Regions from separate parts of the Homo sapiens genome. Here region 2 is linked to region 1. The links come from fine-mapping of genetic effects on gene expression. Tissue or cell type: whole blood. Region 1 holds a variant in brackets; the other region holds the start of a gene. All regions are shown on one strand. Distances are between the middles of the regions.

What was found. PIP is the estimated chance that this variant, and not a neighbour inherited with it, causes the effect.
Region 2: it holds the start of SAMD9, and the variant in region 1 is fine-mapped to the expression of SAMD9 in whole blood (INTERVAL, PIP 0.99).

Annotation. Positions count from the first base shown.
Region 1 is chr7:93,035,340-93,043,447 of GRCh38, reverse strand. No RefSeq gene overlaps it. Among named protein-coding and RNA genes, the nearest start is that of SAMD9, 79 kb to the left of the region's middle. RefSeq lists enhancers at 2,369-2,883, 3,575-3,714, 3,916-4,431. The variant A/G (reference allele first, on the strand shown) is at 3,170.
Region 2 is chr7:93,113,404-93,121,511 of GRCh38, reverse strand. SAMD9 (sterile alpha motif domain containing 9) reads left to right here and starts at 3,533. Exons shown (of 3, transcript NM_017654.4): 1 at 3,533-3,649; 2 at 6,617-6,717.

The DNA of each region.
Region 1 (8,108 bases):
CCCTTCCAGGAACTGTTTGCCTGCACTAATTCCGCGCAAGATGCACACACTGAGCCCCTTTGTAGGGCTGAAGGATGACAGTCTCTCCAGCCTAGATTGATTTAGTAAATGACTGACTGCATGGGCCTGAGTACCTGGGTATTCGTGTGTGTGTGTGTGTGTGTGTGTGTGTGTGTGTGTGTGTGTGTGTGTGTGTGTTGACTTAAAGGCGCTCCCTCTTTGCAGAAATAAATGAATTAATGAATTTTTAAAAAGAAGGTAGAACTAACGCATTTTCGAAAAAAGCAAACATCAGGGAATGTGCAGTTTGTTACAACATATCTATCCATGATTCCATTTTGGGGGAATTTATATGAAGATATCCCACAATCGGGCAATCGCCAAACAAGAAAGCATCCTTAATTGAGTTGAAACTGGGGGTAAGGGGACAGAAAAATCGCCCCCATAAAATAATTTCAAATTCAGCCTTGTGTTTCCCAGTAATTGGGCTGTCTGAGGATGAGACTGGGAGTGGAAAAATCCAAGTTAGTCTTAGAGCTGCACTTCTCAAAAGTGGCTGCAAAGGCTTTGAGGTGGTCAGTGATTTGTGTTTATTTACAACAATGCTTTAATTAATCATATTTAATAAGATTTGATATCACTTCATCGGTGGCTAAGCAAAATATTAATTATGATTTAGTTTGTTGACTTACCACTATCAAGAACTTGGATGATGATTTTTTTTAAATCATTTTATCTCTCTGTGCCTTTTCTATGCTTCAGAAGTGACAATGGCATGTTTAAGAGTCTAGGAAACATTTGAGCCTGGGATGAAAAGTCAGATACTGAAGACCCAGTTGTACACATAATGCATTTTTAGAGAAGATACATAAAAATGGACATCCAGCCAGGTGTAGTGGATCATGCCTGTAATCTTACCACTTTAGGAGGCCAAGACAGGAGGATTGCTTGAGGGCAGGAATTTTAGACCAGCCTGGGCAGTATAGCAAGACCCCATCTCTACAAAAAAAAAAAAAGAGAGAGAAAGAGAAAAAAAATGGACATCACTTACAAAGTACACTCTCAATAGCAGATATGCTCTATCTTTAAAAAAAGTTTTGAATTATTAATGTATCACCTTCTTGTTAAAGAAAACAATACCAAAATGTTTAAAATTAAAAGTAAAAATTACCTCCATTCCCACTCCCCTGGAATAATCACTTACAAATCCAACAAGTATCTTTCCAGTCTTTTTAAACACACAAACACATATACTGTATAATATATATGTGTATAAAATATATGTGTGTATTGCATATGCTTGTATACATGCAATATACATTTAATGTACCTATAGAGAGAGGATCGCTTCTTTTTAATGGGATCTTGTTAAACATATTGTTCTATAACTTCCTTTTTACTCAGAAATGTAATCATGAATAGCCTTTAATACCAGTATTATATTATTTGTAGTGGCTCCATAATATTCCAGAATATCAGTGTATGTTTTATTTAGTCCTTCCCATATTTATGGTCATTAAAGTTATCCCAAATTCTTCAGTAATATCAATAATGCTGCCATAAACATCCTTGCATATATATCATAAATTTTAAATATATATTTAAATGCAGCTGTTTTTGTTGTTGTTTTTTGTTTTTGTTTTTGTTTTTGTTTTTTGCCTCTGTGGAAACTGGAACTGTCAACTGAGAAGGGAAAGGCAGCACGAAATGAAGTATAAGTGTTGCATAAAGAATAAAGGCTCAAGTTGCAAAGCAGTGAGTTGGAGTTGGCTTATAGGAACAGAAAGCAGACTCATTAAAAATTGCATTTTGATGTATAATATATTTTTTTCAAAGTCATGAGGCTCTATGTTCTCACAATGTCTTCTTTCAGATAACATACCTGTAGGTGTGCACAACTCCGTCTCCAACTTTGTAACTGAACTGGGCATGGAGTTGGGTTCACTTTGTAACTTTGAAATCTTGATGAGCAGCACAGGAGCCATCATGGCTTCTCTGTAGCTAAGGAGACTGCAGTAGTTGCTACAACCAGTAGCTATATTTGGCTCTATTTCTCAAGCACTGAAATTGAAAATAAAGAAGTATTTTTCCTTCACTTTGATCTCCTTTCTATCTTGCTTTCTTTTATTGTATATTCTTTTTGAAAGTCACCTCATATTCTTACTGATTGGGTCTAGAGTCATTCCTTTATCCATTCACTTATTGATGTACATTGATACATGTACTGAAATACATCAAGTAGAGCTCATTTACCTTCATTATACCAGGAAAAAAAATCACCATTTACCATCTGGGGCCAATAAACCCTTTAAATTTTTTAAAATATTTTCAAAAATATTTTTAAGTCATTTTGCAAATAATTGATAGAAGTAAGAATAAGGGATAGTAAAAAAAAAAGTTAGAAATGTTAATAAGAATTTAAGCATAGCAAATTTAAATTTTCCATATTTTCCTGCTTTTGAAGGTATCTATACCCAAAATAGACGACGTCTTTAAAATTCAACTAACTGCCATACCTATCATGCAGGAGCCTGCAGCATATCCATAGTGTAAATATTGATTCCTGATTTCAAATAACTCTTTAATAGGTTTTAGCATATTCATGGTTCTGCTCTGTTTGGCCTTATCAAAATGTGACACATTTGAAATTTTTAACAAACCAGAATTGTGTTGGCATTGTCACAGGATTCTTAGGGTATTGCTTCGCCAGCCGGAAATCTCTGTGGCCGGTGGTGCCTTTGCCTAAGTTTTGCTTGGGCCTGCTGGGCCCACTCAGCCTGGCAGGCTGCACTCAACTCGTGCTACTGGCCTGGATCCCATGCCTGCCAAGGGTGAGCAGAGCGGTGAGGGGTGTGTGGGTAAGTGAGGTGTCCGGCCACTGCGCACAGCCAGGCATGCTGGCGGCAGTGGGGGCAGGGAACTCCAGGAGCCAGCACAGGTGTCGGCTCCCTGCAAGGCTGCAGCTGGACTAGCCTTGCATACTGCATACTGCAAGCAGCTTCCACGGCTGGCACCAAGGAATGCACTGGTGCCCAAAAACTTGGAGACAGCAGGAATTGCTGAGCCCCAAAGGAGGTGTCACAGCCCTGGCTTGGGGAGCTCCCAGGTCTGAGCTCCCCAAAGGGTCGCATTTCTTCTCTCCTTCTCTCTGCTGTCCTTCTTGTTGCCT[A/G]CAATGTGGCGAGCAAGGGGCACATTTCAGCCCTGTGTTATAGCTCTGTTGACCCTGCCATTTGGTGGGTCCCGAGTTCTTGTCTTGCATCCAGGAAGAATGAGGTACATGGACAAAGGAGGGTGAGCAAGGCAAAGCAGGAGCTTTATTGAGTGATAAAACAGCTCAGAGGAGACCCACAGTGGATAGCTCCTCTCCACAGCCAGGGTGTCCTGATGAGTGTTCAGCTGTCAGCAGAGAGGAAACCCTAGGGTGGGTAGTTCCTCTCTGCAGCTGGTCATCCTGTCATCTTTTTTGAGTCTGGCTGAATCTGGGGGTTTTACGGACTTCAGAGGAGAGGAAGTATGTGCTGATTGGTCCATGGGTGACCCAGAAAAAGCACTGTAATCTCCTACCCTGGTCTGTGGGACTGGCAGCCAGGCCCCCAGGCTTCAGGCTTTCTCTGGCTTGAAGGTGAGCTTCCACTGGGGACCCGTCCCTTTCGGCCCAGGAGCCTGTCTGCCTCCTACTGCTGTTCATGGCGCCCAGACTGTTCATGCCGAGGGGCACCTGCAGGCCAATGCAGAGCTGTCCTCAGCACCCCCTTTGGCCTCCCTCTTGTGTTTGTTGGTGCCCAAGGTCTGGTGGGGGCCAAGGCAGCAGGGGGCTGGCATGTAAGCACTGCCCTGAGCTTGTGCACACCCAGCCAGGTTGCCATAGCGCCCAGGCTGGTCCTCAACTTTGCTGCAAGATCAGACCGGCTGCCAGCAGTGGGGAGAGGCCAGGGAGCAGGAGCCTGTGGGGGAAGAGGGGCTTCCTGGGACCCTGAAAGCACAGAGATGCCAAGATCTGCAGCCATGGCTTGGGCAGCTGCAGCAGCACCTGGGAGGGTGGGGATCCTGCCTGCTTCCAGCCCCCAAGGACACAGGGATGCCTGGGTCTGCAGCCCCAGCTGCACCTCCCCCACTGCAGCGGGCATCATGGCAGTGGCTGCTCCAGACAGGCCACCACTGCCATCAGCATGAAGACTGACATTTTCTTTGCTCCATAAGTGCCAAAAAATTTTATTTCTGGATTTATGAACACCAGTTAAAATAATCCAGTTAATTTTTTACTTCTATATCTTGTATTTTCTTCCAGTAACCTTTGTAAACACACCTGCCTTCAGAACTCATTTGCTAATAAACCACATGGAATAAATTTTGAAACAATTTGAAACAATAAAAGATACTCAACATCTTTTCAGCAAAACAGAATGGTTTAAGTTCTTATTGCAAAATATTTCCTGTTGAATGACTAACTGGATGAGAATACCATATTTTCTTTATTTATTTAGAAATGAATTGTTCATTCATTGATTCTTAAGTATGGGAGAAAAAATTATACCCAGAATATTGTCATCTGAGGACTCATACCTGAGATTTCACTTCTCTGACCAATTTACTATCATCATTATGGCCTAGGAAGCTGATACCTGTCTCTTTGCATTCTTTTTCTGTTCCATCGAATAATACTTTCCTCTATCAACTTATTTTTCTTTGCCATTATGGGAAGAAAATGGAAATTTTTAAATCCTCAACTGTGTTTAGTCTTTAAAAAGACTGCAAAAATGTATCTCCATACTTCTCTTATTCCCTACTTTTTAAAAATGCAATACTTTGCACAACCCAAAAAGAAAACTAAAGCTTGATGCCACCATGATGATTTATTTATTTCCTTCCAGGAGGTTTCATTATTCTTCCATTTTCTTATTATTTTAATCTTTTTAGAAAAGCAGAGTTGAAAACAATTAAATAGCAATGCTAAAATCATTCCTAGCAAGTTGAAATAGCAAAATGGAAAAAATAGGCTCATGAAGATTTCTACCATCCTATCTTGTAATTACCATGCAGCTCCATTGGACCCTGTATAAAGCTTTATACAGGCAAAACCCTGTCTCTACAAAATATTTCTTAAAAATTAGCCGGGCATGGTGGCACACACTTGTAGTCCCAGCTACTTGAGGGGCTGAAGTGGGAGATTCACTTGAGCCCTAGAGGCAGAGGTTGCAGTGAACCAAGACAGCCCACTGCACTCCAGCCTGGGTGACAGATTGAGACTCTGTTTCAAAAAAGAAAAATAAGTAAATTTTTCCTCAGTTCTTTGGAATAATAAAAGACATCAAATATCTTTAAAAATAGTTACAAATAAAAACTCAAAAATAAAACGAGATGCAAGAGGTCCTGATGATGTTCTGAAGGTTAAGGTAGGAGGTATTCTATGGATCACATCATAGCCTCTTTTCCAGGTCATGCAGATTCAAGGTGAGGCAACTGACTAATGAGGAAGGTACTGAACCAATGCTTCACTTCAGACTCTTAAAGAAGGAACACTAGCTAAAGATGGAAATAGTGATATTAACAATAGGTGCTCAGAAATAATTTTGAAATTTCATGTTGAATGTAATCTTCTGTATTTCAATAACCATTTAACACAAGAGAAACTGCTATGAAAGTTAAATAGCTTACCTAAGGTCAATTAAATGAAATATCCTGATCCTCAAAGCTAGGGACACTTATGGGTTCATTCAATAAACATTTACTGACTGTCTACAATATGAAAGAGACTGTTTCTGGATAGCATATGTAGATACCTTTCAAAATGGGTTAAATCTAAGTGAAAGTATTCCAAGAATGTCCTACTTGAGAACGATGTCAGTTTTCCAAACTTTAGGTCTCTAACTTTAAAAATGGCCTTTAGAAAATTCCTCACTCACCAAAATTTGTTAATTGAGCACAACTTTCACTTTTCTTGCTGATTTTACCCTTACCACCTTTTCTTTAGTCCTCACACAGTATAAGGTATAAATACATGCATTTCTCCCCTGGATTGGTAGACTTATAACTTGCTTTGCTCCATAAAGATTTCAGGGGTCATACAATAAATGCATTTATATAGCAACATAAATCAAACTAAAACAAAAAAGAAAAAGTGGTAAAGATTTGTGCAGAAACCTAACTTAAACCAACATAAGCAAAATAATAATAATAGGTGTTTTAATTTGGAGCAATCACATGACACATTGGAAAGGGCAGAGATTCACATCAGCCTTAAGGACAACTGTAACCAGGGCTTTAAGTAACCCCTGCATCTTGCTGCAGTCTCTGTTTTGCTCTGCTTGTCAGTTTCATTCTTGTTCACCCAGACTGATTCTTTCCACGTGGCAGGAAACACAGCTATTCACAGCAACCAGGTTTTTATATCGCATTGCTTCAGCTCAAGTCTCTGGGTTTCTATCTGCCTCTTCTAGGAAAGGCTCTAACTGTCCTAGCTTGAGTCAGTCAGTCACCAATCTCTGATGCAAATATTAACACCTGTAGTCTCAGTCAAAGCCAGAAAAAAAGAGACTATGACTCATCCAGTTTGGATTATGTACCTGCCCATGTAGTCAAGTGCTTATCCATGAACCAATTAAATATAGCCAAGGAGCAGGATCATGTTATACAAAATGGCCACTCCCACAAAAGCCAATCAAGAAGGGATTTACCAGATAAAGTGATTGTGCTAGGAACACAATTTTGAAGCTATCTACTATAATAAAGTAGGATAAATTAATGGTAACAATGCAATTAAAGCCAGGAGTTAAGGTGGGGCACTTGCTTCACACACACAACATTTCACTAATTCAACCTGCTGTTCAAAGTGGGGATAGGGAAGAAAATTAATACAGAGAAGACTCACCTCTATGCTTCTTTCAACTCCTCCATGGTGGTTATGACACTAGCACTGTTGAAGGCAGAACTTCAGGACAGGCCTTCAATTGGCCTCATGTAAAACTGAGAAAAGTCAGTAATATCCACATCACTATAGAGCCAATAGATGAGCTGCCTCAGCAAAATAGATGAGTTGAATCTCTCTAACTCATACTGACCCCAAGCACTCTAAATCAGTCACTCAGCCTATGAGGCCAGCAGAGGGCTGGGATCCTTGCCCAGGTCCCATCAGCTTTCCCCAGGAAGAGTTCTCTACAGTCACATCTGAAGCCCAAAGAAAGATCAAGGAACCTGCTTTAGCCCCTCTGTCACTCAGCCTTGCCTATGGCTATCTCTAGACTATGATAGTTTTTGTAGTCGACTAAATTTGCTCCTAAAACATGAGTATTAAGGGTGATAAACCCACATTTGGTCAAAATCCAAACAACCAGAAAGTTCAGATAATCAGAATTGGTCTTATTGATTGTCTAAAAATGATTGACATCGCAAATTAATCTTTATTTGAAATTATCTAAGTAATATATTTTAAGAACATTAAATATTATGTGTAATTTTATATATTATAATTACTTTTATATTGAATCTATATTATTTCTTCATATATGTTGCATATATTTATATATCTTTATATATATATATGTTTTTAACTTTTAGGTTCAGGGGTACATGTGCAGGTTATATAGATAAACTAGTGTCATGAGGGTTTATTGTATAGATTATTTTGTCACCCCAGCACTAAGCCTAATACCCAATATTTATTTTTTCTGCTCTTCTCCTTCCTCTCACCCTCTACCCTCCACCCTCAAGTAGGCCCCAGTGTCTGTTGTTCCTCTCTTTGTATCCACGTGTTCTCATTATTTAACTCCCACTTATAAGTGCAAACATGTGGTATATGCTTTTCTGATCCTGCATTAGTTTGCTAAGGATACTGGCCTCCAGCTCCATCCATGTTCCTGTAAAGGACATGATCTAATCCTTTTTTATGGCTGCATATTATTCCATGGTATATATATACACCACATTTTCATTATCCAGACTACCATTGATGGGCAATTAGGTTGATTCCATGACTTTGCTATCACAAATAGTGCTGCAATGAGCATATACATGCATGTGTCTTTATGATAGAGCAATTTATATTCCCTTGGGTATATACCCAGTAATGGGATTGGTGGGTTGAACGGTAGTTCTTTTTTTAGCTCTTTGAG
Region 2 (8,108 bases), 78 kb before region 1:
GGAAAGGAGCAGAACTTCTGAAAGGTCAGAAGGTCCAGGGGAGAATAGCTGAAGGCAGCTGTTCTATATCCCTGAGGCAGAGGGCAAGGAGTAGGTACAAGTGAGTATAGGGGAATTTATCTTAAACAGGTTCCTTTACTTATATTGACAAGGAACTGACCTTTGATCATCCACGTGTATGACATTTCCTGAAAGGGGAACAATAAATGTTAGTAACCTTCAGGTTGTGTTTGCTCCAGGTTTTCGACATTGTGCCTGCACTGAATAAAAGCAAGCAGCTCCAGCTTCTCAGGGCTGCTGCACTTCGGCCACTAAAGCCAGGCAGATCCCTAGCTGCTCTTACACGCATACCTGTGTCTGAGTACCCCTTAGATCCATCGCTCGGCCAGGGTCTGCAGGACAGACCTGGCACGTGGGGGTGGGATCCGCTGAGCTAGACCACTTGGCTCCCTGGCTTCAGCCCCCTTTTCAGGGGAGTGAACAGTTCTGTCTTGCTGGTGTTCTAGGCACCACTAGGGTATTAAAAAAAAAAACTCCTGCAGCTAACTCAGTGTCTACCCAAATGGCCACCCAGTTTTGTGCTTGAAACCCTGGGCCCTTGTGGTGTAGGCCTCCAAGGGAATCTCCCAGTCTGCAGCTTGTGAAGACCATGGGAAAAGTGTAATATGTGGGTGGGCCAGAATGCACCGTTCCTCATGGCACAGTCCCTCACAGCTTCCCTTGACTACAGGAGGGAGTTCCCCAACCTCTTGTGTTTCCTGGGTGAGGAGATGCCCCACCCAGCTTCAGCTCACCCTCCATGGGCTGCACCCACTGTCTAACCAGTCCCAATGAGATGAGCCCGGTACCTCAGTTGGAAATGCAGAAATCACCCGCCTTTTGCATTGATCTCACTGGGAGCTGCAGATCGAAGCTGTTCCTATTTGGCCATCTTGCCAACCACCTCCAGTGCATTTGTTATTTCTCTAATTGTGTTCTTCATTTCCAGAAATTGTGATTGTTTTTTATGTATGCTATCTATTTCACTGAGGAATTTTCCTTTCATATCCTGTATCATGTTTGTTATTTCTTTAAGTTAGAATTCACCTTTCTCTAGTGCCTTTTTGATTAGCTTAATAATAAACCTTCTGAATTATTTTCCTGGCAATTCAGAGATTTTGTCTTGGTTTGGATATATTGTTGGTGAGCTGGTGTGGTATTTTGGGGGTGTTCAAGAACCTTGTTTTTTCATATTACCAGAATTGTTTTTCTGGTTCCTTCTCATTTGGGTGACTGTGTCAGGGGGAAGATCTGGGACTCAAGGGCTACTATTCAGATTCTTTTGTCCCACAGGGTGCTCCCTTGATGTAGTGTTCTCCCACTTCCTCTAGGGATGGGGCTTCCTGGGAGCCAAACTGCAGTGATTGTTTTTTCTCTTCTGGGCCTAGTCATCTAGCAGAGCTACTGGACTCCAGACTGGTACTGGGAAGTGTCGGCAAAGAGTCCTGTGATGTAATACATCTTCAGGTCTTTCAGCTGTGGATACCAGCACCTGCTCCAGTGGAGGTAGCAGGGGAGTGAAGTGGACTCTGTAAGGGTCCTTGGTTATATCTTCGTTAAATGCTCTGGTTTTGTGTTGGTTGGCCTCCAGCCAGGAGGTGGCATTTTCAAGAGTGCATTAGCTGTGGTACTATAGGGAGGAAGCAAACTTGACCTAGGGTCATCTAGTTATATATTCATGTTTCTGAGGCAGTGGGCAGAATATGTCCTTTGTCTTGCAACCAGGGCAGGTAAAGAAAGACCAACAGGTTGGGGCAGGCATAGGTGTGGCTGAGCTCAGACTCTTATTGGGTGGGGTCTGCTGCACTTGCTGTAGGGGGCGGGGGTGTGGTTCCCAGGCCAATGGAGTTATGTTCCCAGGGGGATTATGGCTGTCTCCACTGAGTGACATAGGACACCAGGGAAGTGGGGAAAAGCCAGCAGTCACAGGCCTCACCCCATTTCCACACAACCCACACTCCTAAAGGCCAGTCTCACTCCCACTGTGCCCCTGCCAACAACATCGAATCTATTTCCAGGCAGTCGGTGACCAGGGCTGAGAACTTGCCCCTGGCTATCAGCCTCCCTGCTGAGAAAGCAAGCAGACTCATGACTTTTCTTTTTGGCATCTCAGAGAAACTGCAGTGGCGATACAGTTCCTTCAAAGGGTCTGTGAATTCTCTTGGCTTTCCTGGTATGTTGCTGCAGTAATTCTTGAAGCAAAAGTTCATGATGTGAGTCTCCACATGCTGTCCTGTCTGTCCCAGCAGGAGCTGCAAGCTAGTCCTGCCTCCTCACCCTCACAGAACCACCAGAATAATGTTTGACCAAATATCTAGGCACTCTGTGGCCCGGTCAAGTTGACCCATAAAATTAACCATCACACTGGTCCCCATGCAAAGTGAAACCCAGGTTTTGGAGTTCAGGCCCAGGGTCCCCTTACGAGGAGGGCTCCTGAGGGTGATAAGTGTAATGGTCATATCTAGGCTGTCCTTCATAGCCACTTTCTTTCTTCCTAAACCTCAGGATTTAAGAGCACTGGCCTGAAACCTGGATTCGAATCTCTGCCATGTATTAGTTATGCAAACTTTAGCCATATTATTTAATCTCTATGCCTCAGTTTCTTCACCTTTAAAATTGAGATAAAAATAATCTCTACCTCAGGAGATTGTTGTGAAGAGTAATTAAGTTAATATGAAACATTTAGAACAATGCCTGGTACATGGTAAGCGCCCAATAAATATTTTAAAATAAATGTTTTTAAATGTTTTCATCTAAAACCAGTGTGAATCAGTTGTGGGATGTGGAAACCAAAAGCTAATTGAGCACACACAATAAATATCAGTACTTGCTGTTAGTTTTTAAAATATCAGCTATTTTTGTTGCTCTCACTCAGGCAGTTTTCTCTCTGGCCCTGACACTGACCTTAGAAAAGATAAATCTCTACAATGTGACCATCAGGTCTGCTGCAGCCCTGGTCTGCTCTGCAATAAATGAATTTAGCACTTATTGGGGTGCTCAAAGAAGTCCTATCCCTGAAAGACATTCTTTACACTTTAGGAAAACAGGAATGGACAGTAACTCCACCCTTAAAGGCCAGTGAAATATTGACCTAGAGTATCTCCAACCTGGTGCTCTACAAGGCTGGGACTGCAATGTAAACTCATATTCCCAAGGGATCAATTAAGCCAGAATATCCCACAGTTTGTCTATAACAAGACAATGGGGCTTTCTGCAGCCCTCAAAACTCTCAAGTGAGGAAAAATTGTTAAGCCTTCAGATTTTAACCAAGCAGACCAGAAGGTGGTATATAGCCATAGCTTATTAAAAAGCATTTCAGATAGAAAAGGCGGTGCTGTAATTTCAGATCTGAGAAATGAAACTGAAACCAAACCTATATTCTTCCTTCCCCAACCTCCCAGTTGTTAAACACGCCCTGCTGTTTCTGAGCCAATTAGAGCTTGCTGTGAGACAGAAGCAGAGAATACATAGACTTCCGTTAAAACCAGAATGAGGAAAATACTTTTCTCTAGCATCGTAGGAGGAAGAAAACAAACACATCAGATATTTTCAGCACTAAAAGAGATGGTTTTCCCCACATATATGTAAAAGAAATTTGCAAGACTACTGGGTAAGTACAATATCTATTATTAATATTGTTCTTACTATCTATAGCAGCATTTTATTGAATAGAAAGAAATATACTTTTCAATTAGAAGCTTCAAATATACCTCAAAACAAAAAATAGTATTCTAAGCCTAGAAATTCTAGACTATTTGTTGCTCTGACAGCAGTCTGCTTTATATTAGTTGAAAAATTAGTCATAACATTTCATTAAAGATGCAGTTGAAAACTACAGACACTTTTATTGATGAACTCTCCCAAGGCATACAGCATCTTCAGAAAGAACAAACAGGCCAGGTGTGGTAGCCTGTAATTTGAGCACTTTGGAAGGCAAGGACAGGAGAATTGTTTGAGGCCAGGAATTCAAAATTAGCTTGGGCAACATAGCAAGACCCTACCTAGCAAGATTCCTACCAAAAAAAAAAATAGCTGGATGTGGTGGCACGCAGCTGCAGTCTAGCTACTTTGGAGGCTGAGGCAGAAGGATTGCTTGAGCCCAGGAATTTAAGGTTACAGTGAGCTGTAATTGTACCACTGCACTCCAGCATAGGCAACAGAGTGAGACACTGTCTCAAAAACAACAACAACAACAACAACAACAACAACAACAAACGGAAAGATAGATAAAGAACAGGCAATGAAAACTTAAAAGTACTTTACTTTAATCAAATACAACTTCCACCATCTACTCTAAGAAATAGGTAGCTTCCAGAAAACAAAACTCTCTGAGAGCTTCTCAGATATTGTTGTCGGATGACATACATAGGAAGACAGACAGACAGATAGACTACTATGGGAAGTCTTTGGAATTAAGGCAGCTTTATGTTCCTGGCAAAAATACTAGGTTTATGTCTAATTTCTCCCCAAAGCAAACAGTAAGATAATGCAAGACGGTTGGAGGATCACATTTCTGAATAAAGGTCTGACCTTCAACTCCCTTCTAGAAAAGTTAACAAACCCTACAGTTTAACACCAACCAGAGTTAAAAAATGTATGTGGGTTCAATCAGTAACAAATAGTGTTTCCTACTAAGATGCTCAGAACCAAATTTTCAGGTCAGTTTTTAAAGTATACGGAATCAAAACCAGTAATTTTAGGTACTAATTTTACTCCCTCATTTCACCTTTTCTCCCCCTACCCTTATTTAGCCTTCCCCATGATTTCTTTACCTAAGGGTTTTAATATATGTGTGATCCTATATTACTTTCTAAATTACCTAAAAAACATTTTGGAACGAGAGGGTATAAAGAAATCATTAATATGTAAAATATCTATGAACAGTGGCATAAATACCTATGAATGCTGGCATATATTTTCTCCAAGAGTGACATCATCAACAATTTTTTTAAAATAATGTATTGAAAGGCACAGCTATCAATAATCTGACAAAAGCTTTAGGGGAAGAAGTGTGAAAGTGTAACCTGTTCAATGACATTTGAAATATTCATAGTGTCTCTAGTAGAGAAAACAGTCAAAAGTCACTTCTTTATTATTTGCTTACTTTCCCAACCAAATGTTCAGGCCCAGTTCTCCATCCCCCACACTCTTATATGAGAACCTGACTTTACGTTTTCACATATAATGGTATGTAGTTCTTGCATGAATCAAATAATCCATCTAATTCACCAGTCTCATAATCTAGTTTATGACATATCACCAGAGACTAAGGACTGTGTCTGTAAAACTGTGAAAGGTCCAAGTTGATGAAGGAAGTCAGGGAGACCCTAGGAAAAGGGTACTGGTGGGAAGCGGCGAGATGGGGGATGAGAGCCATAGGTATGAGGCCTCAGGAGCCAGCGCACGCTAGCAGCACAATAATCGGGGACCCCTGCTTTATGTGTTAAATAGTGTGGGTGCAACAAAAGTGAGCATACTTTCATAGGGTGGAGTAGACGTGACTCAGTAAATGGATACAAGAAAGTGACTCAGATAGAATGGTTACTAGACGAGGGTGTAGTCAGTTTTTAGACAACTCTAAAACCAGTATTGAATCAACACTGAGTGGGATGCAGAAGTCAAAAGTTCATAATCTGAGACTGCAATAATAAACACCTAGTAAAACTTTAGGACCTCACATACCATTGAATTCACAATTATCCTTGATTCATAACACACCATCATCTTTTTTATGCAAGTATCTCTTTTATTTTATTCATCCGTTTTATTTTCTAATGTATTTTGGAGGCATTATTGGCTTTTTAAATACAGTATAACTTGTATACAATGAACAAACTTAAGGGTAAGCCTTTATGAAATTTTAATATGTACTTATCTGTGCAACCGCTAGCCATATCAAGATATAAAATATTTCCATCACCCCTTCCCAGAAAATATCCACCCCCCAACATCAGTCTGACTTCTATGACAGATTACTTTTGCCTATTCTTAAACTATATAAGTAGAATTCTACAATATGTTTTCTGTTGTAACTGGCTTCTTTCACACAGTATGATGTGATATTCATTCATGTTGTTGCCTGTATCAGTACTTTAATAATTTTCATGAGAATTGCAGATCCAAAGAGTAGGTATATATTTAACTTCACAAAAACTGATAGTTTCTTGAAGTGGCTAAAACAATGTACATTCCCACAGACAGCATATGAGAGCTCCACTGACTCCACATCATCACCAACATTTGGCATTAACAGTCTTTAATTTTAGCCATTCTGGTAGGCATGTAGTATTATCTTGTTGTAATTTTACTTTGCATTTCCATTACGGTAAACATTTTGGAACACTTCTAATTGCACTTCATTAGACCCGCCCCTGTGACTATGAAAATCCCCACTGGTTTTCCTCCTCCCGGTAGGCCAAGTCTAATCCTTAAACCCAACCCCAAATCAACAAATGCCCCCAAAGCTTACATAGACAGGGATCTTTCCTCTCTGGAATTTTAGTTCATCCAGTCCTTGTCATCTGGTCTATTGATGACTTTGTGATTACTTAAAAATATGAGTTTTGCAATTTTTCAGATTTTGATCTCATGGTTGCAGTGGGTGAATAGGTGGCCTTTTGTGATCTCCTACATCACCCTGGAAGTGAGACTTCTTCGGTTTCTTCTAGAGTCAGTTTGGTAAGCTATATTTTTTAAGAATTTGCTCAATTAATCTCAGTTTTCAATTTATTCAGTTAAAGTTGGTTCATTTTTAAAGTTTCTAATATTGCTTATTTGTGCCACCTTTCTTTTTTATTTTTTGGTTAATCATTCCATGGATGTGTCAATTTTATTACTTTTTATCTAAACAGCTCTTGGACTTCACTGAGTCTCTCTTGTCATTTTGTTTTCCACTTTATAAATTCCTGCTCTTATCTTTATTTTTCTCATTCTTCTTATTTCAGTTTTATTCTGTTATTCTTCTTTCAATTTATTAAACTGGCATTAGGTTCATGATTTTCAGTCATTCCTCCTTTTTTAAAAAACTATACTTTAAGTTCTAGGGTACATGTGCACAACGTGCAGCTTTGTTACATATGTATACATGTGCCATGTTGGTGTGCTGCACCCATTAACTTGTCATTTACATTAGGTATATCTCCTAATGCTATCCCTCCCCCCTCCCCCACCCCACAACAGGCCCCAGTGTGTGATGTTCCCCAACCTGTGTCCCAGTGTTCTCATTGTTCAGTTCCCACCTGTGAGTGAGAACATGTGGTGTTTGACTTTCTGTCCTTGGCAACACTTTGCTCAGAATGATGGTTTCCAGCTTCATCCATGTCCCTACAAAGGACATGAACTCATCCTTTTTTAAGGCTGCATAGTATTCCATGGTGTATATGTGCCACATTTTCTTAATCCAGTCTATCAATGATGGACATTTGGGTTGGTTCCAAGTCTTTGCTATTGTGAATAGTGCCGCAATAAACATACGTGTGCATGTGTCTTTATAGCAGCATGATTTATAATCCTTTGGGTATATACCCAGTAATGGGATGGCTGGGTCAAATGGTATTTCTAGTTCTAGATCCTTGAGGAATTGCCACATTGTCTTCCACAATGGTTGAACTAGTTTACAGTCCCACCAACAGTGTAAAAGTGTCCCTATTTTTCCACATCCTCTCCAGCACCTGTTGTTTCCTGACTTTTTAATGATCCCCCATTCTAACTGGTGTGAGATGGTATCTCATTGTGGTTTTGAGTTGCATTTCTCTGGTGGCCAGTGATGATGAACATTTTTTCATGTGTCTGTTGGCTGCATAAATGTCTTCTTTTGAGAAGTGTCTGTTCATCTTTTGCCCACTTTTTGATGGGGTTGCTTGATTTCTTTTTGTAAATTTAAGTTCTTCATAGATTCCGGATATTAGCCCTTTGTCAGATGGGTAGATTGTAAAAATTTTCTCCCATTCTGTAGGTTGCCTGTTCACTCTGATGATAGTTTCTTTTGCTGTGCAGAAGTGCTTTAGTTTAACTAGATCCCATTTGTCAATTTTGGTTTTGTTGCCATTGCTTTTGGTGTTTTAGTCATG